Regions from separate parts of the Homo sapiens genome. Here all the other regions are linked to region 3. The links come from fine-mapping of genetic effects on gene expression. A gene starts in region 3. Each other region holds a variant in brackets. All regions are shown on one strand. Distances are between the middles of the regions.

Region 1 (8,175 bases), 20 kb before region 3:
GACTGCTTGAGGCCAGGAGTTTGAGACCAGTCTGGGGGCAACATAGCGAGACCCCATCTCTAAACAAACAGACAAACAAAAAAACTAAAAAAATTCATGCAAATATATATATATGTAGTGTTTCTTTCTTTTTGAGACAGGGTCTCGCTCTGTCACCGAGGCTGGAGTGCAGTGGCGTGATCTCGGCTCACTGCAGCCTCTGTCTCCTGGTGCCTTAGCCTCCTGAATAGCTGTGATTACAGGCATGTGCCACCAGGCCTGGCTAATTTTTTTTTTTTTTTTTTTTTTTTTTTTTTTTAGCAGAGATGGGGTTTTGCCATGTTTGCCAGGCTGGTCTCAAACTCCTGGCCTCAAGCGATCGGACCCCCTTGGCCTCGCAAAGTGCTGGGATTACAGGCATGAGCCACCGTATCCAGCCAACACTATACATTTTGTATGTAAATTAGACCTCAATAAAATCGATTTAAAAAGAAGAAAGCTGCTAACTTTAATGTCTTCTACATAACCAGTTTACCATGCTCCCTGACCTACTCCCATCTCTGTAAATTGTGCTATAAGAATGGATAAAATGATTACATCTAAATATGATTTATCTAGGCAGATAAACCCTAGCTCTTGTTAATTTACTTACTATAGCTTTATTTTTCCCATAAAAATCAGGTGTTTAAAAATTCTAAACATAATCCCTTTTCTCTTTATGATCTGGAAATTTTGAGAGTACTTTTCTTTTTCTTTTTTTGAGATAGAGTCACACTCAGTCATCCAGGCCAGAGTACAGTGGCGCAATCTTGGCTTACTGCAGCCTTGACCTCCGGGCTCAAGTGCTCCTCCCATCTCAGCCTCCTGAGTAGCTGGGACTACAGGCACAGGCCACCATACCCAGCTTATTTTTTATATTTTTATTTTTAGTAGAGATGAGGTCTTGCTATGTTGTCCAGGCTGCTCTCGAGTTCCTGGCCTCAAGCAGTCCTCCCACTTCGGCTTCCCAAAGTGCTGGTATTACAGGCATGAGCCACTGTGCCTGGCCAAGGATACTTCTCATTTGACTAAATACTCCCTTCCCTTCCACCGGAGGGTTTATACCATTTTCCTTATCTTTAGCAAAGTTGGTAAGACCAACGAGTATCATCATTTTGCAAATGAGTAAATGGACCTTAAAATACTAAAGGAACAAAAAGCAAAAAACACAATTCATTTAAAATAATAGAATAAGCCAGTGATAGAGGGGAAAAATCCAGTACAATAAGCAGATTAATTAAGTAAAAGATCTAGTATTTTCTCTTTCAATCTATTGTAATTAGTTTATTCTTGGCAGTATTGTGCAGTGATCTTTTAGCTGCCTCTGTATCTCCGTCTGGAATGAGGTTCGGGCCATGCTGCGCATGTTTATGTTCCAAGTTTATGTTTTATCTTTAAAACTCTGACTTTATTTGGCTACGTGCCTGTTACTGGGTATAGCCTATATTTTTAGTTTATTCCCAAATGCCCACAATATTAGAATTACCACTTCTTGTGTGTGCATCCACAGCATATCTTATCTGTTATTATGCTGAGAGTGGGGTAGATTAAAGCAAAGCAAAATTCTAGACTGAAAACAGTGTCAATTGAGTGCTTGAGCCATGTTTTTTCGTTCTCTTATGGTAGAGAAGTTTAGGATGAGCATTATTTCTCAGAAGAGTTATTTCTTTATCTAGGAGAAGAAATACCACTTGCAGGAGAGGGTTGACAAAGTAAAGAAGAAAGTGAAAGATGTGGAGGAAAAGTCAAAAGAATTTGTTCAGAAGGTGGAGGAAAAAAGCATTGACCTCATTCAGAAGTGGGAGGAGAAGTCCCGAGAATTCATTGGAAGTTTTCTGGAAATGTTTGGTCCGGAAGGAGCACTGGTATGTTCTTTCCCACTGGACAATGTAGGGAGTTCCATGTTGTGGAAAGAATGACAGAATCATTGAGCAGGAAGGGGCATCGACACTGAGAAGTTATCTAGTCTATCCCCTTATCTGGGCAGAACTATCTTTCAACTGTCCCCAGCAAGGTTTTTGAAACCTTTACAGAAAGACGTTACACATTCTCCTAGATAATTTTGCCAGCTCTCTCTCAACCTTAAAGTCTGGTGACAAGATAAGCAAGTCGCCTTGCCCAGCTTTTATCTGTGGTATGATTTTAGATAGAAGGAAAGGAAAGAATAAAGAACAATAAAAAGAAAGCAGCCTCCACTACAAGTAGCTGCAGCAGGAACCCCAGGTAAGGTGGGAATTCTGTCTTTGAGGAGTAGCAGTCTTTTCAACCAAATAAAAGATTGAGCAAGTGAGTCCTAGGTTAGATATCAGGAAGGATCTGTCTGTGAAGGTGTTTGGATAAATTAGAATAATCCTAGACTAGATTATTGAGGAAGAATGGGGAATTTCCCGGGTGATGACAGCAGGGGAGAACCCTTAAATAAATAGTACAGCATAGACTATCCCAGTCCTAGATGCTTCAGTGATGATTAAGTAGGATCCACGGTGTTTTTCTGACTCTTCCTTTCGGTTTCTGCAGAAACATATGCTGAAAGAGGGGAAGGGCCGGATGCTGCAGGCCATCAGCCCGAAGCAGAGCCCCAGCAGCAGCCCTACTCGCGAGCGCTCCCCCTCCCCCTCTTTCCGATGGCCCTTCTCCGGCAAGACTTCCCCACCTTGCTCCCCAGCAAATCTCTCCAGGCACAAGGCTGCAGCCTATGATATCAGTGAGGATGAAGAAGACTAATGTTTCCTCCCTCCTTTCCTGTCCTCCCTTTCTGTCCCATTACCTTCAGAAGCTCTCTGTTGAATTCCAAATTGTGACCCCAACACTAAACCTAAGGACAGCTACAAAGGAAAGACAACTGGGGAAAGAAGACCTAGGACTGGGGGAACCCAAACAGCCTGTCCTGCAAGTGACATCACTCACCCACACGAAGGAGGGGGACTGCACCTTAGAAGCCTGCTCTGCATCCATTTACCCCCCCCCAAGGGCTTTGTTTCACTGTTTATGTTCACGTGATCTCAACAGGGAAATTGTCATTTTCATTAATTTTTTAAAAAATTCGTCTTTCAAATGTAGAACTAATTTTTTGCCCCTGAGGAGTGGGCAGAAGAAGGAGGTAGTGTAATACGCAGAGGCCTTTTCTTCCCGGTATACTATAGCATTTGCCTTCCGTTCTGAAGCTATGTGGCTTGCCAAGTCCTTCACGAAATGAGCCACGCTGATGGGTAATTTGTGGAGAAATATCTTAATTTTGATTTCCTTAAGGAAAAGCGAAAAGCAGAGTTACAGTCACAAATCCCCTGAACGTACTGCTGTCACCAGTGTCATTGTGGCTGCGGGAAGGAGATCTGAACCTAACTTTTCTTACTCCCTGAGGAGTTTCTTGTTGGACCCAATGGGGTCCATGAAGACACTGATGGGGATGGAAGCAGACCCATGGCATCAACTGCAGTGTTTCTGCTGTGTTCATCTTCTCAGAAAACTCTGTGACCCAGTTCTTTGGGAGCTTTTGTCAGTCTCTTTCGTGCCATCTACCTTCGAAGGAAGGAACACTTTTAGAGTTACAATGATGAGGAGAGGAGCGGGACAATACTCAATCCTATACCAAGTC[G/A]ATTGAGATTAGTTTCCTACTGGGAGTAAGTGCCTGGCCCTGCTACTCCTATTTGAATGCTATTAATATTACCTAGCCTTTTACAAAGGATACTTTGTAAATGTCTGCTGTTGGAACTTGATGTTAATCCATTTTGGTCATAGCCATATTAGAGAGATTTGCACAGAATGTAAAGGCAAAAGCATAGGAAACACCTTCCTTTCTAAAGCAACAGCCTTATCACCTTGACCTCTGTCCCTCTTCAGAACATTCTTCCCTGGAACCAGTGCTCCACATCTTTCTTTTCCTCTGAGAGCTGCAGCTGGCAGGGACCTCCCTCTGCTGCTCCTCCAGCAAGCCACAGAGCATACCCTCACGTGACAAGAGTGTGGTAGGTTTTCTCCCCACTTTTCACACACGCCTGGTGGTTGTGGTTCCATCTGCCTTGTTGGCTTGCCCGGGGGGATTCAACACTTGACTTTCAAATCAAAGAATGCTAATGCTTAGCACTTGCTGTTGAGCATGCTCTAACTTTTAAAGCCCTGGCCTCCTGTCTCCTTAGCTGCTTAGCTACGCGGCCTAGCAGATCATCACCCATCAGTAATCCTGTGGCTAGATCCAGGGGAAAATTGCTTATGTCCAGGCCCCACCCCTGTCACTCATAAATACCCCTTGTGGGGGTGGAATTTTAGTGTTTTCAGCTAAGAAAACCACATTTTCTCTTTCCTTGCCTCTGCTAGGACTGTGAGCATCTCATAGTCCACTCCCTAAACACTTTCTGGTAACACCTAGTTTTCCGCCTGAGGGTCAGAGGCTAGAATCATTGCCTGCACAGCAGGACTACCTTGGTTCTTAAAACTTGGATCACCCAGGCAAGGCGTGGTGGCTCACGCCTGTCATCTCAGCACTTTGGGAGACTGAGGCTGGTGGATCACTTGAGGCCACGAGTTTGAGACCAGCCTGACCAACGTGGTGAAACCCCATCTCTACTAAAAATACAAAAATTAGCCAGGCGTGGTGGTGGGCACCTGTAATCCCAGCTACTTGGGAGGCTGAGGCAGGAGAATCCCTTGAACCCAGGAGGCGGAGGTTGCAGTGAGCAGAGATGGTGCCGCTGCAGTCCAGCCTGGGTGACAGAGCGAGACTCTGTCTCCAAAACAAAACAAAAACCACACACACATACAGAAATAAAGAGAAATAATCAACTAGAAAAAAAACAAAACTTGGATCACCCAGAAAGAGCGTCACAGAGGCGAGGGAGAATGAAGCCTCTTGTTATCCTGATCGCCTATGACAACGACATTTCTAACTCTTCTTTGAAGCGCAGTTCTTACTCTTAAATCTGGTCATACAAGCTTTGGCTTGGAATCCTGTCTGTCTTTGAAACAGCTGAAGTTAGTGTTTTCCTGTGTTACCCAGTGTTACATAGTCTCATCTTTGAACTTTTCTGCGTCAGCCTTCTCTCTTTGGGAATGCTGCCTGTTTCTGTCTAACTTATTCTCCCTGGTGTGGTGTGGCAGTGAAGTCTGTGCTGAAGCCCATCTGCTTGGTTCCTCCAAGTGCACATTATGCAAGTGTATTTGGATAGACAGGGAGATGCCCGGAACGTGGTTTTCCTCCTCCCTCCCTATTGGAGCCATACCTCCTAAATATATTGTCTGGGTCCCAAATGTTTGAGCCCTCTTCCTCTGCTCTCAGTGGGCTGCTCTTGGCATGCCCTGTGCTTGGAACGGGACCTGCAGGCTGACAGGCCTCTGAGACTGCTAGGGCCAGCAAACGTACATGTTATTGGGAAACTCCCTTTCCCCTTTTGGTGAGCTTCTACCACCTCAGTCTAATCGTTTTGACTGAAAGCTATTTGTCTGACTGAAAGCTAAAATCTTTTATAGTGTGGCCTGTTAGATACTTTGGGGTAAATGTGGTCTGAGGTGCTGGACTAGCACGGGTAGATGGAGAAAGCTGTTGGGAAGTTGCATAATGTGGTCATCTGTGCCTAATTAAATGAGGTTAGAGGTGTGCACACCACCACAATGCCTGGGATCTAAATCTTCAGATATTAACGTTTGAGGCTATGGAGCTGTTTCCCTGAATCACACACGAGAAAGCAGTCAACATGGGTGGGCCAAATGTGGCCAAGATGAGAGAGCCAGAAGTGTTGGCCTTAGAGCAGAGCCTCTGTGTGTGAGACATTAGAAGGCCAGAGCCGGGGAGGTGCCGGCGCAGCCACTGCCTTCCGGTGGGCCGGACGGAAAGCTTGGTCTTATGCTAGATTCAGAAGCACTGAAGAATGGAGGTTGACACTTTAGAGGACTAGGAAGGGATCATTTGTGCTCTTGCAGCTATTGCTGATAGCTAGAGCCAAAGACCATTATATTGCTGAGGCTTGGGTAAGAAAGTTAGGGATGTGAGGAGGTTGAAAATCCTGAAGAAGAGAAAAAATATGAGGGAGGCTAAGGAAACTTAGCCACTTTCTGATCACTGATGACTCCTTAGGCTGCACCTGAGTGATGGTGGTGTTTTTGGAGGCTGTACCTGAGTGATGGTGGTTTTTGGGGGGCTGCACCTGAGCGATAGTGATTTTTTTTTGGAGGCTGCACAGCTGGTCAGACCATCTCTAGATGTTCTTTCCACAGTGGTTCATAGGGCGTCATTCCCCCTTCCTGGATTATTTTGACTATGGGTAGCTTATTTTCAAGAGCTCTTTGCCTTTTTAATCCTGTTCCAGATCACTTATCCAAAATCTTTCCAAATCAATTATATTTTGCTGCTTTTCTTTAATTCCCTAAAAGCCATAGCTTCTAGATTTTCTATCAGCACACATTCTCACCAGAAGTTGAACCAATACAGGTAGAAAAAGAAAGCCCCCTTAATGTTTTTAACTGATGATATTTTTTTAAGCTTACCAATATAAGTATTTTTAAAGGTTCTATTTTTCAAAGTCATAACAATGATTGTTCTTGTTTTCTCTCATAGAATAGACTGCCATCGGATAAAGAGTGGTCCCTAGCTTCTATTTTTCCAAGTAAATAAGTAGAACATGTTCTTGGGATTATACCATTAAATGTTAATTTTCTTGAAGAAGAAAGATTGTTGTCTGCCAAGATTTTATGTTAGCGCTCGGATTGAGGCAGAAAACGGAAGCACCAGGTTTAACACTGGGATGACTTGGGTTGTGTTCCTGGAGGTTTGAAGTGGGCCTTCCCGCCTTTTGAGGGGGAAAACTGACTGTTTTGAACACATATCCTGGATTAGTTGGGTTGTTTTGTATTGAGGATCCCTAAAAGACAAAAGAGTCTTGGAAAGGACTGCTGGCTTCGTCTTGAACGTTCGCCCCATCACCAGTGTGAGTCCGTGGGGAAGTCTTCCTCAAGTGGGGTTCAGTCTGTAATTTTCCTGTCTGTTCTTAGTTTGTTCTGAGTTATTTTGGATTTTGTTCTTTAGCCAAATAAAGGCAGTGTGGTTTTACCTGATGTTCCATGTCCAGTGGTGTTTTTATTTTTTATTTTTATTTTTTTTGAGACGGAGTTTTGCTCTTCTTGCCCAGGCTGGAGTGCAGTGGCGCAATCTCGGCTCACTGCAGCCTCCGCCTCCCAGGTTCAAGCGATTCTCCTGCTTCAGCCTGCCAAGTAGCTGGGATTACAGGCATGCGCCACCACGCCTGGCTAATTAGTGTTTTTAGTAGAGATGGGGTTTCTCCATGTTGAGCAGGCTGGTCTCGAATTCCTGACCTCAGGTGAGCCACCTGCCTCGGCCTCCCAAAGTGCTGGGATTACAGGCGTGAGCCCCCGCGCCCGGCCGTGTCCTGTGTTTTGACCTGTGTGGTGCATTTTATGGATTTGGGACTTTTACTTGGACTCTCGGTGCCTTTGCTTCCACGTGCTGACTCTCTCCTTAGAAATCAAGCTCCATGACCACAGTGTCAGGAGATTCCTTTTCTAGCTTGTCACTGAAGACTCAAAAGCCATTGTCCCACAAAGTGAGGCTGACCCAGACCACCAGGGCCCCGCGTGGTTGGTGCCGTAGTAGCACACCTGTCAGGGAAAGGTCACCTTCCATCTGTTCTCCAGGGCCCCTGGCTTCTTCAAGACTCTGGGCTGGTGCTATTTCACCTCACCAAGTTCTCCTTTTCTTATGCCAGACACAATACTATATACTCTTCTTTTCATCTGCTTTAGGAAAGCTCAGTAAGCTTTCTTTTTTTTCCAGAGGCAGGGTCTGGCTGTATCACCCAGGCTGGAGTGTATGGCACAACCATTGCTCACTGCAGCCTCAACCTCCTGGGCTCAAGTGATCCTCCCGCCTCAGGCTCCCAAAGTGCTGGGATAGCAGGCATGAGCTGTCGCACCTAGCCAGCAATATACAACCTTGAAGGGTTAATAGTGACATGGACAGAGGCAAGGTGCCCAGTTACACATTTTCAGACATCATCTTGTTTATTACAAAACTTAAAACACCTTCCAGGCAAGATCCAAAGCAATTTTATTCTAACATTGTTCACCTTCATCTGTAGAGTCAAATGTATCTGCCAGCTTGTGTTGACAAGGGGGAATGCTTCCCATTTGGTCAAGGTTGAGGGACAGTAA
Region 2 (8,175 bases), 440 kb before region 3:
AGAGATTGCAGTGAGCCGAGACTGCACCACTGCACCACTGCACTCCAGCCTGGGCGACAGAGCAAGACTCCATCTCAAAAAAAAAAAAAAAAAAAAAAGGACTTGAGAGCTTTCACCATCCTGAATTGTACAGGGAAGTAAAGTGGGTCTGGAGGGGAGAAGTGAAGAGCCAGTGGCTGTGCCGGGACTGGAGCCCAGGGCTCTGAATGCCCAGTTCAGTGCTTTTCCTAAACAGGGCTCTACTCTGATCATGCAGAATAAGGAGGCGGGAGGGACGAGGCCACCCTGGTCGCACTGCAGAAAGCACACGTGCAGGATACTTTAATTCACCCCACGCTTTGCAAAATTGGCAAAAACAACCATCAGCCATAGGATGTTATTTAGGTGTCTAGGACAAAAATGGTTTTTTTGTTTTTTGTTTTTTTGAGATGAAGTCTTACCCTGTCACCCAGGCTGGAGTGCAATGGTGTGATCTCAGCTCACTGCAATCTCTGCCTCCTGGGTTCGAGCAATTCTCCTGTTTCAGCCTCCCGAGTAGCTGGGATTACAGGCACATGCCACCACGCCCAGCTAACTTTTTTTGTATTTTTAGTAGAGACGGGGTTTCACCATGTTGACCAGGCTGGTCTCGAACTCCTGACTTCAGGTGATCTGCCTGCCTCGGCCTCCCAAAAGTGCTGGGATTACAGGCGTGAGCCACCGTGCCCGGCCAGAAAGAAGTTTTAAGTGATAAGATAGAGGAGCAATGGCATTCGTTTGCACAAGTTTATCAGTAATACAAGGGCAGTGGTTGCCTACAATTGTGGGTTCAATCCCAGAGGGCAAGTGCAGCACGGCAACAGAAGAGGAAAATCCCGAGAGAGAGGTTAGAAGAAGCACAGGTTTGGAGGACAGACTCAATCTGAATCTCGGCTCTACCACCACTAGCAGTGGAATTTCTTGGCCCCTCGGGTTCTTTATCTGATAATTAAAATAAAACCTTCCAATAATTAAACATTGATACTGTATTGACATATGGAAACCTCAACTCTTCTGTCACCTCCGCCTCTCTCTCAGAGAAACACCAGTCACCTTCTGTTCCATGTCTTTCTGGATCTTTCGTAAGATATTACCTACCTTTGTCTAAAAAACAAAAATAAGACCATACTGTGCAAACTGTTCAGTAACCTATTTTTCTCCCCCTGTCAATAAAGTATGACGGACTTATTGCCTTGGCAGTACAAATAAATGTGATCATAATCTTTTTAGGAAGCATATGCATTCATCTCATGAATAGCACAGTGGCTGAGAGCAAGAGTTCCAGGGCCAATGCTTCGTGGCTCTGCTTTTGATCAAATGGGTGACCTTTGGATGGTTACGGAACCGAAAGAGACCTCCATTACCCTGCCTGTAAAACCGAAATTATACTCGTCATTTTCGCATAGCGTTTTTTTTCAGGATCAAGTGTGACTGTTGAGGTGAAACACATTTACTGTGCTTAATAAATGTGAGCTATAATTATTAGGATGATCTAATTAATCATCTCCTATTGTTGAGCATTTGGGTTTCTCTAATTTCCAGACGAACGTTAGAAAGGATTTGCCAAGTTCTTTCCACATCCCCCTTCCCTCTTTGGTATTTTGATTGGGATTGCATTATAATTACAAAGTACTCTGGAAGAGAATTTTTATCTTTTTTTTTTTTTTTTGAGACAGAGTCTCACTCTTGTCGTCCAGGCTGGAGTGCAATGGCGCCATCTCTGCTTGCTGCAACCTCTGCCTGCCGGGTTCAAGCGATTCTGCTGCCTTAGCCTCCCACGTAGCTGGGATTACAGACTCACACCACCACACCGGGCTAATTTTGTATTTTTAGTAGAGGCAGAGTTTTGCCATGTTGGCCACCCTGACCTCGGGTGATCCACCTGCCTTGGCCTCCCCAAGTGCTGGGATTACAGGTGTGAGCCACCGCGCCCGGCCAGGTGTGTGTCTTTATGTGAGTGGGTGTTGCGCTCCTCCCTGCGTGTGGACTCACTGGAGAATGTTGTGGTCAGGGGCTTTCTTCACGCTATGGGGTGCTGTTCCACCACAGCTGCTGCAGTCGTGGGTCACACCTCTGCAATTCCCTGTGGCCCCGCTGAAGTGATGTAGAAGGACCATATGGCCATCCCAGAAAAGCTTACCATGTCCACTTTCTTTTTCTTTTTTTTTTTTTTGATACGGAGTCTTGCTCTGTCGCCCAGGCTGGAGTGCAGTGGCGCGATCTCAGCTCACTGCAACCTCGGCCTCCCTGGTTCAAGCGATTCGCCTGCCTCAGCCTCCTGAGTAGCTGAGATCACAGGTGCCCGTCACCATGCCTGGCTAATTTTTGTATTTTTAGTAGAGACGGGCTTTCACCATGTTGGTCAGGCTGGTCTCAAACTCCTGACCTCAGGTGATCTGCCTGCTTCGGCCTCCCAAAGTGCTGAGATTACAGGCGGGAGCCACCGCACCTGGCCAACGTCCACTTTCTAATAAGGTCAAATGGATAATGTGATGAGGGCCAGTGGAGGGCACCCAGACTCTCCAATTCTCAGTCCTCAACTCGGAAGAGCCACAGGAAACCCACTCTTTGGGCTTCCTGGCAGCCAATTCTCTACTCCTGCCCACTGGGCCAGAAAGTGTCAAGCAGAGGGCCTTGCCTGAACTCTGAAAGGCTGTTCATTTATCTCTCCTCTTCCTGTGCCTGGTAACCCCTGAATAACTACTGTGTAGTTAATCCTTTATTGCCTCTGTAAGAGAATGCTGGAGGTCAAACATAGCAGAGATTAATAATAATATGAGTGATAACGGATAAAACGCGTAGCACTGACTACCTACCAGGCACTGTCCTGAGTGCTTTACATGTATTAACCCATTTAATCATCAGTCAACACAGCATGATGTTATTGGTAGATATTATTATTACGTATATATTCTACAGATGGAGAAACTATGACCTAGAGTGACCCCAATGTCACCAGCTAAGGGTGGGGCTGGGTTTAAACCAGGCCAGTCTAGCTTGTAACCTCTATGTCATATTGGAATAGACTCTAGCACAGTGGTTATAGGTTCCTACTAAAAGAGGTTAAAAACCATGACAGCTATGCTTTAAGAATACATACTTGAATGTAAGTGTTAGCCCTGACATCCAATTTGTCTTCCCAACGCCTAGTATATAATATGGCTCAAGAAATGTTTATTAAATATGTGTTTCATTTTTTTTTTCTTTTTTGAGATGGAGTATCACTCTGTCACCCAGGCTGGAGTGCAGTGGCACGATGTCAGCTCACTGCAACCTCTGCCTCCCAGGTTCAAGCAATCTTCCTCAGCCTCCCGAGTAGCTGGGACTACAAGCATGTGCCACCATGCCTGGGTAATTTTTGTATTTTTAGTAGAGACGGGTTTTTACTATGTTGGCCAGGCTGGTCTCGACCTCTTGACCTTGTGATCTGCCCGCCTCGGCCTCCCAAAGTGCTGGGATGACAGGCGTGAGCCATGCACCTGGCCTAAATATGTGTTTCTTGAGCAGACTTTTGATATCATTGTTATATAGATGAAGGGGAAAATTACTGGAAATTTCTCAGTTTGGACCCAAGTCTATTTTCACATCTAGGCTGAAAGCCCTAGAGGAGGCTTGGGTATCCACGCTCCGGGTCTTCTTAGCCTGAGCGTGGTCCGGGCTGCCGCTCTGCAGAGTGGCATGGCAGCAAGTCCTCCCCGCAGCTGTGTAAGCCTTAGCGGTCAACTCGTCCACAAACTCCGAGGCAGGCTTCTCCAGCTCTCAAGCACCTCACCCGGAGATTCTCATACCATCGGTGCAGCTCAGTCATCCAGTTTTTTGTTTTGTTTTGTTTTTTTCTTTTTTTGAGAGAGTCTCACTCTGTCGCCCAGGATGGAGTGCAGGGGTGTGATCTCGGCTCACTGCAACCTCCGTCTCCCGGGTTCAAGCGATTCTCCTCCTTCAGCTTCCCAAGTAGCTGGAATTACAGGCATGCACCACCACGCCCAGCTAATTTTTGTATTTTTAGTAGAGACGGGGTTTCACCATGTTGGCCAGGCTAGTCTCGAACTCCTGACCTCAGGTGATCCGCCGGACTTGGCCTCCCTAAGTACTGGGATGACAGGCGTGAGCCACCGCGCCTGGCTTTTTTTTTTTTTTTTTTAAAGACAAGGTCTGGCCCCATCACCTAGGTTGGAGTGCAGGGGCATGATCTCAGCTCACTGCAACCTCCACTTCCTGGGCTCAAGCCACCCTCAC[A/G]TCTCAGCCTCCCAAGTAGCTGGGACTATAGGTGTGTGCCACCGCACCTGACTGATTCTTGTATTTTGTAGAGATGTGGTTTCATCATGTTGCCCAGGCTAGTCTCCAACTCCTGGGCTCAAGTGATCTGCCTGCCTCGGCCTCCTAAAGTGCTGGGATTACAGGCCTGAGCCACTGCACCCGGCCTGAATCATCCAGATTTTTAACAAGTTGTTCTTGTTCCGGGAGGATGCCCTAGGCTGGTCTCGGATGCCTCCTATCCTCAGCAGGCGTGAGAACGGCGGGGCAGGGACTGCCTGGCTCTTCCCAGGAAGCATCTTAAAATCCTGTGGTTAAAGGGCAGCTGCACATGCCCCTGTGCTAGGCAGGCACAGAGTGATGCAGGCTCCTTCATTCTCTGCCCTTCCTGATGGACAATCTGTCAGCTTTCCAAATGGACCAAGCCTTGTCAGGACAGGAGCAGCCGACAGATCAGGGTTCAAGGGAAACTCACCAACTTGCAGACTCCTTGGGAGGCTGCTGTGGCTGTTCCGCTTCTGTTCCTCCAGCCCACGGTCAGGAAGTGAAAACCCAGGCAGAGCCAAAGAGGCAGCAACTCCATCTCAAGGGCAGCCCTGTGGACAGAGAGCAGGGAAGAGGTAAGTCAGAGAAGGACATCCCAGAGGGCTGTTTGTATTATCGGCAGAAGGAGCCAGTTCCAATTCTATGTGGTCTTGGAGCTCTGTGGAGCTCCATAGAGGTGCAGCCCACAGGATACTCAGATACCTCCATTTAGCCAAGACTTCCGGCCTTTCACTGAAACTGTTGACAAGAACTCAATTTCATTTTGCCTCTACCACTTGATGGACGGGTGGCTGAACACTAAACTTCAGCGAGTCCAGCACAGAAGGGAGAAGCAAAAAGCTTGAGTAACCAGGCCTCCAGTCACCTGGAGTTTCCCATATTTTGTAATTCTGCTGAAGTTTTCCTGCCTCCAGCTCCAATCGGTCTGATGCATCCCCTGAGCTCAGTAAGTACTTGCTGAGTGAATGAATGAACAACTGGAGAGTGGACGGAGACGGAAACACGGATGGGGGCCTCTGTCCCAGAGTTACTCCTCAGCTGCTGATGTGGGGCTGTTACAAAAGCGTTGATCTCTTTGGTTCACTCATTTGACTATGACCCTTTGAAAAAAGAGGTTTGATATTTTGCTTGGACGGGGGAAACACGGAGGGAAAATGAAGAAGCAATCTTTGGGTAGAATAAAGGTGGTTAACGAAACGTGGTTGCCAGCCCGCTTGCCTGGCCAGTGCACAGAGAACAGCAATAATGAGAAGGCTTGAAGGTATACACGCACCAGCAGAGATTCAGAACTAAGGGGAGCCATAAGGGAAATGCAATATACTCATCACATTTGCCAGGTGAACAAAGGCCCAGAGATACTACTCGAGGTTGTGGATGAACTTAGTGGCAGGGCTAAGAGCAGCCCCGCCTCGCTCCCCGAGCTCCGATGAGTGAGCAGGGCAGTTTCTCCCAGCAGCGAGGCTGCACTCACTGCTGCCCTGCTGGGGACCTGACGCCCAGTGCATGCCCCCAGCTCTGCATTCTGCAGACCCAGAGGCAAGAGCTGGCCCCAGCATTCCATCTGCCCATTCCTTGACACCTACCGGAGGCCCAGTGTCTGCCCTCCCATCTTCTCCTGGGCCAGCGGCACCAGCTCACCCCACCTGCTCGCTCCAGCCACTCAGGGGCCTCCTCTTTCCTTTCTTCAAATGCATTTAGGGATCTTGAAAGCTCATTTTACCTTCTTGATCAGATTTGAATGCTCACCAGTGCAAACAGACTAATTGAAGAGCTCAATGAAACCGGGTAAGCCAGCTTTCACTTCAGGCCAGGCCAACTCCCCTTACTACAGAGAGAACCTCCAATGCAGAATTTACCAGAACTTGCCAGACACTGGGAATCCCCTTCCAGACCCATTTCTGCCTCTGCACCCACACAGGAGTCATTGCCTTGTGGCCGGCACAGGGAAGAGAGGGCAGAAGCAGAGGTGTACGGGTTCCTGACCTCAGGATCCCCCCAGCACCCTTCCCCGCCCCTGAAACCTGGGATCACCACCACTGCCCGCCATGAAATAAGGCTGCATAGTTGCAGATTTAGTAAATTACAAGGCATCATTTCAATGCTAGATACATCCTTATACTAACAAATTGTTTATCTGACATTCAAACTTCACTGGGCATCCTGAATTTTACTGAGGGGAGATGGGGAGGTAAGAACCCTCCCTTCCTCCCTGGCCACCTCTTGTCAGGTGTGGGGTGGTACCTGCTGCTGTGACTCCAGTCTCTCTGGAAGAGCCAGCCCTGCGTATCGAAGAACTGAATCTAGACGTGTAAGGGGCAAGAGTGCAGGTCCCTCAGCGAAAAGGCAACCTTCAGACTGGAAGGCAAGCCAGGCCTTGTGTCACACTCAGGAGGGGCATTTTAATTTATGGGTCATCAAGAATTTTGCAAGTTTAAAACATATCCTCTCCTTCCTCCTAAACTCAGCCAACCAGCCCAGAAAAAAACTCTTGTTGTGGCCCTGGCAGGAAGCAGCAGGATATCATGGGAAGATCATGGAATTTGGAACCAAGCAGACCAGAGTTTGAATTCTGCCTCTGTTATTTGTTATTTGTCCTTTAGGAATTCAGACAAAGTCTCCAAGACTCAGAGAATCCGTCTACAAAATGGGAGTAATAATAACTATTCCAGAGTTGCATGAGAATAACCAGTCTCATGAATGTGAAAGGGCTTCATGGCTGTAAAGGTAGCAAGTAACACAATTATTAATTATTACTTGTGAGTTCCAAACACCAGTGAGTTGACTGAGTGCTGGTTATTCCTGTGTAATCTCCAAGGTAGTTCAACAGCTACACAAAGTCTAAAATAAAGGCCTGAGTAATGTGGCTGGAAGGATGAATTATACCAACTAGATATGTAAAACATATGCAGGAAGGTTCAATTAAAAACTCTGCATTCATAAATTGCAGAGCAAGGCTAGCCCTGAGCACAGATGACTATGCTGGCTGACAGCGGTTTGTCCCCAGAGCTGCGCCTTCCCCTTCCCTGCCCTCCTCAGTGTGGCAGGGCTCTGACTTCTGAAGGTTCTGAATCTCAAACTCTGCTGTCACCTGGCCTCAAACTGCTGTCACCTGTCACAAACTCTGCTGGTTTAGTCAATGGAAGACACTCCTCCTGGGAGGTCAGACAGTAGAGGGCAGAAAGAATCCAGCATACTTCTCTCCCTTCCTCTCTGCCTTGGACAGAGACATCCTAGAGTTTCTTCCGCTGACCCCTAGGCTCTGGTGACACCACCTCCTCCTCTTTGTTTTTGTTCGTTTTGTTTTGTTTTTTGAGACGGAGTTTTGCTCTTGTTGCCCAGGTTGGAGTACAATGTTGTGATCTCGCCTCACTGCAAACTCCACCTCCCGGGTTCAACAATTCTCCTGCCTCAGCCTCCCAAGTAGCTGGGATTACAGGTGCACGCCACCACGCCTGGCTAATTTTTGTATTTTTAGTAGAGATGAGGTTCCACCATGTTGGCCAGGCTGGTCTCAATCTCATGACCTCAGGTGATCTGCCCGCCTTGACCTCCCAAAGTGATGGGATTACAGGCGTGAGTCATGGTGCCTGGCCCACCTTCTCCTCTTGTCCTCACCCTACCTAGGTGAGGATAAGAAGCTTCCTGAAGCTGCTCGTCGCTGTGTTGACTGTTTATTTGCTTTCTCAGCCTTTTCCACCATGTGTTGCCACTTTCTTGCATTAAATATCCTCTGTCTTAAATAATCTGGGCAGTTTCCGTTTCCTGGTTGGACCCTGACTAATACAATCATGTGAGAATGGCCAAGACCCAGTGCTAAATTAAAAGTATGTAATGACTGTAAAGAAATAAAAGGCTTTC
Region 3 (8,175 bases):
AATAGCTTTTTTTTCTCTCTCTCTTTTTTTTAAATTGAGACAGGGTTTCGGTCTGTTGCCCAGGCTGAGGCTGGTGGTGCAATCATAGCTCACTGCAACCTCGACCTCCTGGGGTTGCAGCATGGGCCACCGTGACTGGCCTGAAATAGTTTTCTTAGCATTTAATTTTAAGTTCGAGACCAGCCTGGGCAACATGGAGAAACTCCACCTCTACAAAAAAATACAAAAATTAGCTGGGCTTGGTGGCATGTGCCTGTGGTCCCCAGCTACTAGGGAGGCTGAGGTGGGAGGATCACCTGAGCCCAGCAGGTGGAGGGTTGGGGTAAGCCGAGATCGCACCACTGCACTCCAGCCTGAGTGACACAGTGAGACCCTGTCTCAAAAAAAAAAAAAAAAAGAAAAATTAAGGAACAACAAAGTTTACAAATGAAGCGAGGAAGGAGTTTCGCCACAGCCTCCCAGAGGCACTTCTTCCTGCTTCTCCTATTTCTGGCTGTGCCGTCACCATTGCCCAGAACCAGCACTTACACGCCTAGGTCTTTCCTAGATTGCCTGCTCTTTCTTTGAACTGCCTGTTTCCCAACCCTTCCTCTTCTTTCCCTGCCACTGCCCTGCCTCAGACTCTTTTCCCGCATGGCAGGCCGGGGCAACGACCTCTCATTTACATCCCTGCCTATTTTTTGCTGTTGTTGAGACGGAGTCTTGTTCTGTCACCCAGGCTGGAGTGCAATGGTGAGATCTCGGCTCACTGCAACCTCTGCCTCCCGGGTTCAAGCGATTCTCCTGCCTCAGCCTCCTGAGTAGCTGGGATTACAGGCACGCGCCACCACACCTGGCTAATTTTTGTATTTTCAGTAGAGACAGGATTTCACCACATTGGCCAGGCTGATCTTGAACTCTTGACCGCAGATGATCCGCCTGCCTCGGCCTCCCAAAGTGCTGGGATTACAGGCATGAGCCACGGTGTCCGGCCGCATCCCTGCTTCTTAAGCCTCTTCCTCTGCAGTCCATCCTGATTACTAACGAATGGCCGAGAAGCACGACTTTCATCCAGCCACTCCCAGCCTCAGAGCCTTCACGAGCTCCTTCTCGCTGCGGGATAAAGCACAGCTCCTCCGCCAGCCCGGCGCGCAGCGGGCCTCACCTCTCCTGCCCGGCCCTCTCAATTGTCCCCTGCTCTTCCACCAGGATCCTTGAATCCTGCCAGACCTCGCTCCCCTGGGCCTGGGGCGTCCCCGAACTCATCCTCGCAGCTTCCCTGTCCCAGGAGGGCCCGCTGGCCAAATCCTCCCCACTCTGCCTGCGGCGAGGCTTGCTGGACTAGCAGACTCAGAATGGCCTGTTCTGAACAGCCTTGGGGTTTCCGTTTGCACATTCTGAAGCAAAGCAATGTGAGAACCGTTTTCATTGCGTGAGGCAAGGTTTCTCAACCTGAGCACTATTGACACTTTGGCCTGAATAATCTTTTCTGTGGGGGCTCTTCCCGTGCCCTGTAGGAAGTTTAGCAGCTTTCCTGGCCTCTGACCACGAGATGCCAGTAGCACCTTCCAGTGTGGCAACCGGAAGTCTCCCGACACTGCCAAATATTCCCTGGGGGGACAGCTGCTGTGTAAGGGAAGGCTTGTACCACCAGCTGCACTCTCTCAACAGGAGGTTCACTGGAACTAGATGTAGCAGCCACCTACTGCCACTAACCACAGAGTGGCCACCAGGCATCTCCGGACACTGGCAGTTGGCAACCGCTCTGGTTCAGATCATCTGAAATGAAGCCCTACACAGCCCAAGGACACGCCCACGTCTGCAACAGAACGCACACTGAGAGCTTCCTGTTGCCTGGGAAACGTGTTAAATGTGCTACAGAGACACAGACTTGTATCCAACATTTCAGAGGTAGTCAGTATGCAGCAGGAAAACAAAATAAAACGCAGGCGTGAGTCACATTTTCTCTAAGCATGCTCGGGCCGTGATTCTCAATGTTTTTGGTGTCCGGGGAATAAGCTGAGCCCCATCCTATGCCTTTCACTTTCTTTTTCTTTTCCTTTTTTTTCTTTTATTTTTGAGACGGAGTCTCACTCACTCTGTTGCCCAGGCTGCAGTGCAGTGGCGTGATCTCGGCTCACTGCAACCTCCGCCTCCCGAGTTCAAGCAACTCTCCTGCCTCAGCCTCCCGAGTAGCTGGGATTACAGGTGCCCGCCACCACGCCTGGCTAATTTTTGTATTTTCAGTAGAGACGGGGTTTCACCATGTTGGCCAGGCTGGTCTCCAACTTCTGGCTTCAAGTGATCCACCTGCCTCGGCCTCCCAAAGTGCAGGGATTACAGGCGTGAGCCACCGCTCCCAGCCAATGCCTTTCACTTTCAAAAGTAATTCAGTAATAGAATCTTGTTGGCCAACACTGCGAGGACTTTTGCAGGTTCACCTATGTTTTTTTTTTTTTAATTACTGTTTTATTTGGAAAAAGTGCTTCTTGCAAAAGGGAAGCTGCAAAACAGAGACCTCTGCAACAATTACTTGTTTTTTCTTAAAGTGAAAGAATGGGTGGGATCCAAGGAATCAAAGCAGTAGATGGACGACCAGGAGCACCCCAAGTTATCTTCAGGAAACAGAGCGACAAAACGCAAAGGTAAAATTTCCAGTCAAGGAATTCTTCCAACAGCTGAACTTGAGCTGGCCTCGGGGATCCCCACACCCTCCCCTTCAGTGGACAATTATGACTTATTATTGCAAACAAATTACTCCACTACAATAAACACTGTAGAACAGGTTTTTGAATCCCATCTGTCCACCTGAGAGCTCAGGGGTGGAATGAGGCAAATACCCACAAACACACACACAAAAACCCGACAACAGAATGCTCCAGTGAGGACAAAGGTTTTTCAGAAAGGCTGGATCGTAAAACAAATACAACTGGTTCACCTGTGTGAAGCACGTCACTCACCGTAACCACCCTCTAGAGTGACATGGGTCCAGGGCGGATGCCGTGCAGCCCTCCAGGAGACCCGATGGGGCTTGGACCACTTGGGCACCATCTTGGGTCCCCAGATGGCTCTGGGGTCTGAAAAAGCGCCCCAGGTCGCAGTGTCCGCAGTTTGAATGAGCTTTGAGGCCAGTTTTGTGGAGGCCCAACATGACGGTTGCTCTCCGGAGCCAGGCTCTCATGCTACCCTTTTGACCCACTGACTCCTTGAGGCATTGCCCTTCTCCAGAGCCTTAACCACGATGACAGACACCGGGCCAGTTATTCTCCCCGGCTGCCCAGGTGCACCAGCTCAGGGCCGCCTCTCCCCAGCTCCACTCAGCTATCCTGGTTTCCCTCCTCTCAGTTCCCTCTGAGGAGGGTCCCCACTCACCTCTCAGGAGTTGGGCTGCTGTGGGAGGCTGAGAGAAGCAGGCGGAGGGGATGCCGTAATTGGTCTTCAGCACCTCCAGAAGATCTGCTGTGTACCTGGCGAGACACCAGCCTGTGCTCAGAACCATGGGGGCTGGGGGAAGGGGGAGGGTTGCACACTGGACCCTCAACCACTCCTGAGTGCAGGACTTTGTCCATTTCCCCTCAGGGCCTCTTTCTCTCTCTTTCTTTCTTTCCTTCCTTCCTTCCTTTCACTCTCTCTTTCTCTTTCTCTCTCCCTTCCCCTTCCCCTTCTCCTTCCTTCCTTCCTTCTGCTCTCTCTTTCTCTTTCTCTCTTCCTTCCCCTTCTCTTTCCTTCCTTCCTTCCTTCCTTTTTCTTTCTTTTTTTTTCTTTTTGAGACAGGGTCTTGCTCTGTTGTCCAGGCTGGAGTGCAGTGGTCTGTCTTGGCTCATACAGGCAGCCTTGACCTCCTGGGCTCAAGTGATCTACTCAACCCCCATCCCCATGAGTAAGCTGGGACTACAGGTGCACGCCACCAGGCCCGGCTAATTTTTTATATTTTTGGTAGAGACAGGATTTCGCCATGTTGCTCAGACACTGGTCTCGAACTCCAGGACTCAAACTGGAACTGGGCTTAAACTCCTGGACTCCCGCCTCAGCCTCCCAAAGTGCTGGGATTACAGGCGCCCGGCCTCAGGGCCCTTTTCTTAGAGGGAGTGGAGAACTGGCCCAGGTGGGGGAGTAAGACAAGCTGCCACCTAGCCAGGCTGTGCCTGGCTGCCGTGCCTGAAGAGCCCACCGTGGATTCTCTCCATGCGGGTCGGGCAGCAGCCCAGGGACTGACCAGAGAGGAAGAGCAGGATCCCAGAGGAAGGGTGAGTCCTTACAGACGGACGGGCCCCCTGCTGCTGAGGGATGCTGCCATTTCCTCTGCGAATGCCTTCCACAGCCCCCGCTCTGCGACCTTTCTCTCCCCACGCTGGGGGGCAAGGCCGAGGCCCTGGAGTGTCACACCCTGGCCCAAACCCACGTTGTCCCTGAGGACCTAGGAACAGCTAGAGCATTTCCAGTCCTGTCTCATTCTGAGTGCGGCCGCCAAAGGGCTCTGGGAGGGAGAGAGGACAGGCCGCGGGATAGGGGCCACCGCTGCCCAGCGACTGGCCCAGGGCCCGCCGCCCTCACTTACCTGGGGTCAAGCTTTATCTGGGTCCTGCCCGGCTCCATCGCCGCGTTCTCTCCAGCAATCCCGCAGGCACCGGGGTGAGGAAGGGCAGGCGGGGCGGGCAGGTGGGGGCCGGGGGCAGGGTGGCTTGCCTGGGCCGGGGTGGGGGGCAAGCAGAATTGCAGAGTCTTCCCCTCTGCCGCTCTCCCTCCTTGAGCTTCCCGGGCCAACTTTCTATCTCAGAGTTCACCCCGGAGGAATTTGATCCTCTAGGCTGGCGGAGTTCCCTGTGCCTGACTCGTCCCTGCCCCCAGGTGTGGTCCCTCCCACCTCTTGGACAGGTGCCTTTGGCCACCCCTTGCCTCTGGCCCGGCCCATCCTATAGGATTTTGCTGCCAGTCTGCCCTGCCCTTCCAGGAGCCTTCTGGGGTGGGGTGGGCTCACCACGAAGCCCCTGCCCTGGGCCGGGGTGGGGACGAAGTCCTCGCTCCTCACCGCAGTGTTCCCTGGTCAGCGGCCCCTGAAGAACCTGCTGGAACTCAGGCTTGGGCACTCTGCAGCGGGGAGACTCAGGGCTGAGGCCTCGGCCGTGTTTGGTGCTGTCAGCCTGATGTGTGGAAGGGAGGACAGGCTGGAAAAGCCAGATGAGGCCGGTGTGGGTTTCCCAGACCCCAGTTCATCACATCTGGATGATGGGCTTAGCCACCCCCACGCTGGGCCGGAAGATGCTGTATTTAAGAGGCAGAGTTGCAGAGTGAGATTGCTGGGCATTTGACAGGTCTTGAAAACCTGCTGAATTACAGGCTTGCAAACGATTTTATTGGCTGATAGCTTCCCTTTTCTCTCTCTCCACATAGACTGAAATCTCTTCGAAGCCAGACACAGCATCTTGTACTGTGGTACGGTGGTACCTCTAGGTTCCTGGCACGCAGCCTGACACATACGAAGGGCCCCTTAGAATTTGGTTGCATAGCTGATGAAAGCAGCCAGCGTCTGTCAGCATGTCTGGTGTGCCAGGGCCCGCAGGACATGCAGTGTGTTCCTTAGCTTATTTAAACTTTACCACCGCGTTACAAGGGAAGTAGTATCCTTATTCCCATTTTACAGATAAGGAGGCTGAGGTCCAGAGAGGCTAAGAAACCAGGTCAGACAGAAAGCTGTGGGGTGTGGAGAGCGGCCAAAGGGGCCTGGGGGAGGGGCTCTGTTGGGGCATGGTGGAGATGGAGGTAGTGAGAAGAGGGCCCAGGAGAGGGTGCAGAGGGTCAATTCTGGGAAGGGAGAGGGGGCTTCCTGCGCTGGGCTGGTGAGGCCATACAAGCAGTGGAAGCAGTCCCTGATGGGGTACCCGGAGGACTCCCCACTCCTGTGCCCAGACACCTCAAAGTCTCTCCCAAGAGTCAAGCTGCATCCCCCTCCAGCTTCCCCTCCTCCTAAAGTCCAGTTCCTGGGACAGGACAATGTCGTGAGGCAGGCGTCTCAGGGGCCAGCTGCCTCCTAAGGTGGAGGTCAGGGAAGGAAGAGGCCTGCAAGGGCCCTGACCCCCAGAGGGTCACTGGCCTCAGCCCACCCTGACAAAGACGCAGACTGACTCAGCTTCCTCCCAGCATCTCCGCAGGCACGTTCGCCAGGTCATTCACCCCCAGCCCACTGAGAGGCCTTGGGTTTAATTACCCAAAGCCCTGAACTTTAGACTTCCCAGAGCTGACAACAGGGCGCTGGGGATGTTCTTAGAAACTTCAGGACACAGTGGGGAATGGCAGGAAAGGTGAAAGGGCAGGAGGGAGCCGGGGGGGGCTGCGGTTGGGCTGAGACGGGTGCTTCCCCACTGGGCAGCAGAGACTGGGAGACCCCAGGAGAGACCGGCAGGGTGTCAGTGAGGGAAGGGGGCTTCTGCCCCACCCAAGGTCTCTACGGGGTTGTCTTCTGTACAGTGTGGCCCGGGATCCAGCCAGCGGGAGGCCCTGCCTGGAGGCCGGCCCATCCCCAGCTAAGGCTTGGTCAGAGAGGATGAGCTGTGGCCGCCAGGGTCTCCTCTTGGCAGTTGGGGCCTGCCAGCTCTCAGAAACTGATTTTAGAACCAAAAAGAATAAGTCCTTCTGAATTTCATTTCTTTGGCCTATTTTTTCCCACAAAATTATATGATAGCATCATCTGACACTTATTGAGACAGAGGAGGGATGGGACTCGGCTGCCAACTCCACTAATGCATTCGCTAATGCATTCCCCCCCCCAACATTTTTCTTTCTTCCTTTTTTTTTCTTACCTGCTCATTGAAGGACAGTGAAAGCATTAAGATAAGCAGCATTCCACTGTAAATCTTACACAAAATGCCACATCCACTGATCACACGACCTTGAAAAATGAAGATAGGCAGCGTCGCACTTCCAATCTTGTACTTCAGGGAATGAACTCCATTGCCTTTGTGTGCAGGAAGCCGGAAGCACGACCACTCTTTACCCTCGGCCTCATTACAAGACCAAGACCTCTGCCTCGGCGCGGCAGCTCTCACCTGGAATCCCAGCACTTTGGGAGGCCGAAGCGGACGGATCACCTGAGGTGTCAGGAGTTTGAGACCAGCCTGGCCAACAAGGTGAAACCCCGTCTCTACTAAAAATACAAAAATTAGCCAGGTGTGGTGGTGTAATCCCAGCTACTCGGGAGGCTGAGGCACGAGAATCGCTTGAACCTGGGAGGCGGAGGTTGCAGGGAGCCGAGATCTTGTCACTGCACTCCAGACTGGGTGACAGACAGAAACAAAACAAAAGCCTCTGCCAGGGAGAGGCTTTCTCGTCGTGTTCTGATCCTGCGATGTATGTGTTACCGCGATTCCTAACTATCCCTGTGCGTTCTGTCACTCCTGCAGGGACGCTCACCTACCTCATGAATTACGCGTGTCGCCCTCCTCGAGACGCCACAACGCAGTCCCCTGGGGAGCCAGCCGGAGACCTCTCCCTGCGGTGCTGTCTCCCCCGTGGTGGAACGGAAGCCCCTAATAAAGCCTTGTCTGGGAAATTTGCTTGGCCTCGTGTCAATTTTTATCGGAGCCTAAAGAACCTGTGGTCAGTAACACGATCATTTCAGTTATCACTTAAGTTTTGGCTTCCTTAATATGAGAGTCAGTTTTGAAAAATCAAAAAAGAGGCTGGGCGCCGTGGCTCACACCTGTAATCCCAGCACTTTGTGAGGCCGAGGCAGGTGGCTCACTTGAGGTCAGGAATTCGAGACCAGCCTGACCAACATGGTGAAACCCCATCTCTTAAAAATACAAAAATTAGGCCGAGTGCAGTGGCTCACTCCTGTAATGCCCGTACTTTGGGAGGCTGAGGTGGGTGGATCACCTGAGGTCAGGAGTTCGAGACCAGGCTGGCCAACATGGTGAAACTCCGTCTCTACTAAAACTACAAAAAAAAAATTAGCTGGGCATGGTGGCAGGTGCCTATAATCCTAGCTACTTGGGAGGCTGAGGCAAGAGAATTGCTTGAACCCGGGAGGCAGAGATTGCAGTGAGCTGAGATGGTGCCATTGCACTCCAGCCCGGGCGACAGAGTGAGACTCAGTCTCAAAACAACAACAACAAACCTCATCTCTTCCAGTCCCCCTCCTCCCACACCCTGGCAACTGTGAATCTGCTTTTGATCTCTATGGATTTGGCTACTCTGGAT

What was found.
Region 1: its variant is fine-mapped to the expression of SLC51A in minor salivary gland (GTEx, PIP above 0.99).
Region 2: its variant is fine-mapped to the expression of SLC51A in minor salivary gland (GTEx, PIP above 0.99).

The regions. Positions count from the first base shown.
Region 1 is chr3:196,233,255-196,241,429 of GRCh38, reverse strand. SLC51A (solute carrier family 51 member A) reads right to left here. Exons shown (of 9, transcript NM_152672.6): 9 at 8,003-8,175. PCYT1A (phosphate cytidylyltransferase 1A, choline) reads left to right here. Exons shown (of 9, transcript NM_001312673.2): 8 at 1,695-1,883; 9 at 2,536-7,062. The coding sequence ends at 2,742. Among named protein-coding and RNA genes, the nearest start is that of SLC51A, 21 kb to the right of the region's middle. The variant G/A (reference allele first, on the strand shown) is at 3,614.
Region 2 is chr3:196,651,220-196,659,394 of GRCh38, reverse strand. It overlaps NRROS (negative regulator of reactive oxygen species), which reads right to left. Exons shown (of 3, transcript NM_198565.3): 2 at 4,748-4,868. The coding sequence starts at 4,855. Among named protein-coding and RNA genes, the nearest start is that of NRROS, 16 kb to the right of the region's middle. RefSeq lists an enhancer at 7,878-8,175. The variant A/G (reference allele first, on the strand shown) is at 4,255.
Region 3 is chr3:196,213,113-196,221,287 of GRCh38, reverse strand. SLC51A (solute carrier family 51 member A) reads right to left here and starts at 4,754. Exons shown (of 9, transcript NM_152672.6): 1 at 4,538-4,754; 2 at 3,352-3,446. The coding sequence starts at 4,575. It overlaps LOC124909479 (a long non-coding RNA gene), which reads right to left. Exons shown (of 4, transcript XR_007096240.1): 3 at 7,391-7,567; 4 at 6,646-6,865. It overlaps LOC105374304 (a long non-coding RNA gene), which reads left to right and starts at 897. Exons shown (of 4, transcript XR_001740544.2): 1 at 897-1,930; 2 at 2,529-2,624; 3 at 6,944-7,103; 4 at 7,377-7,525. RefSeq lists enhancers at 1,643-1,822, 1,903-2,052 and a silencer at 1,696-1,990.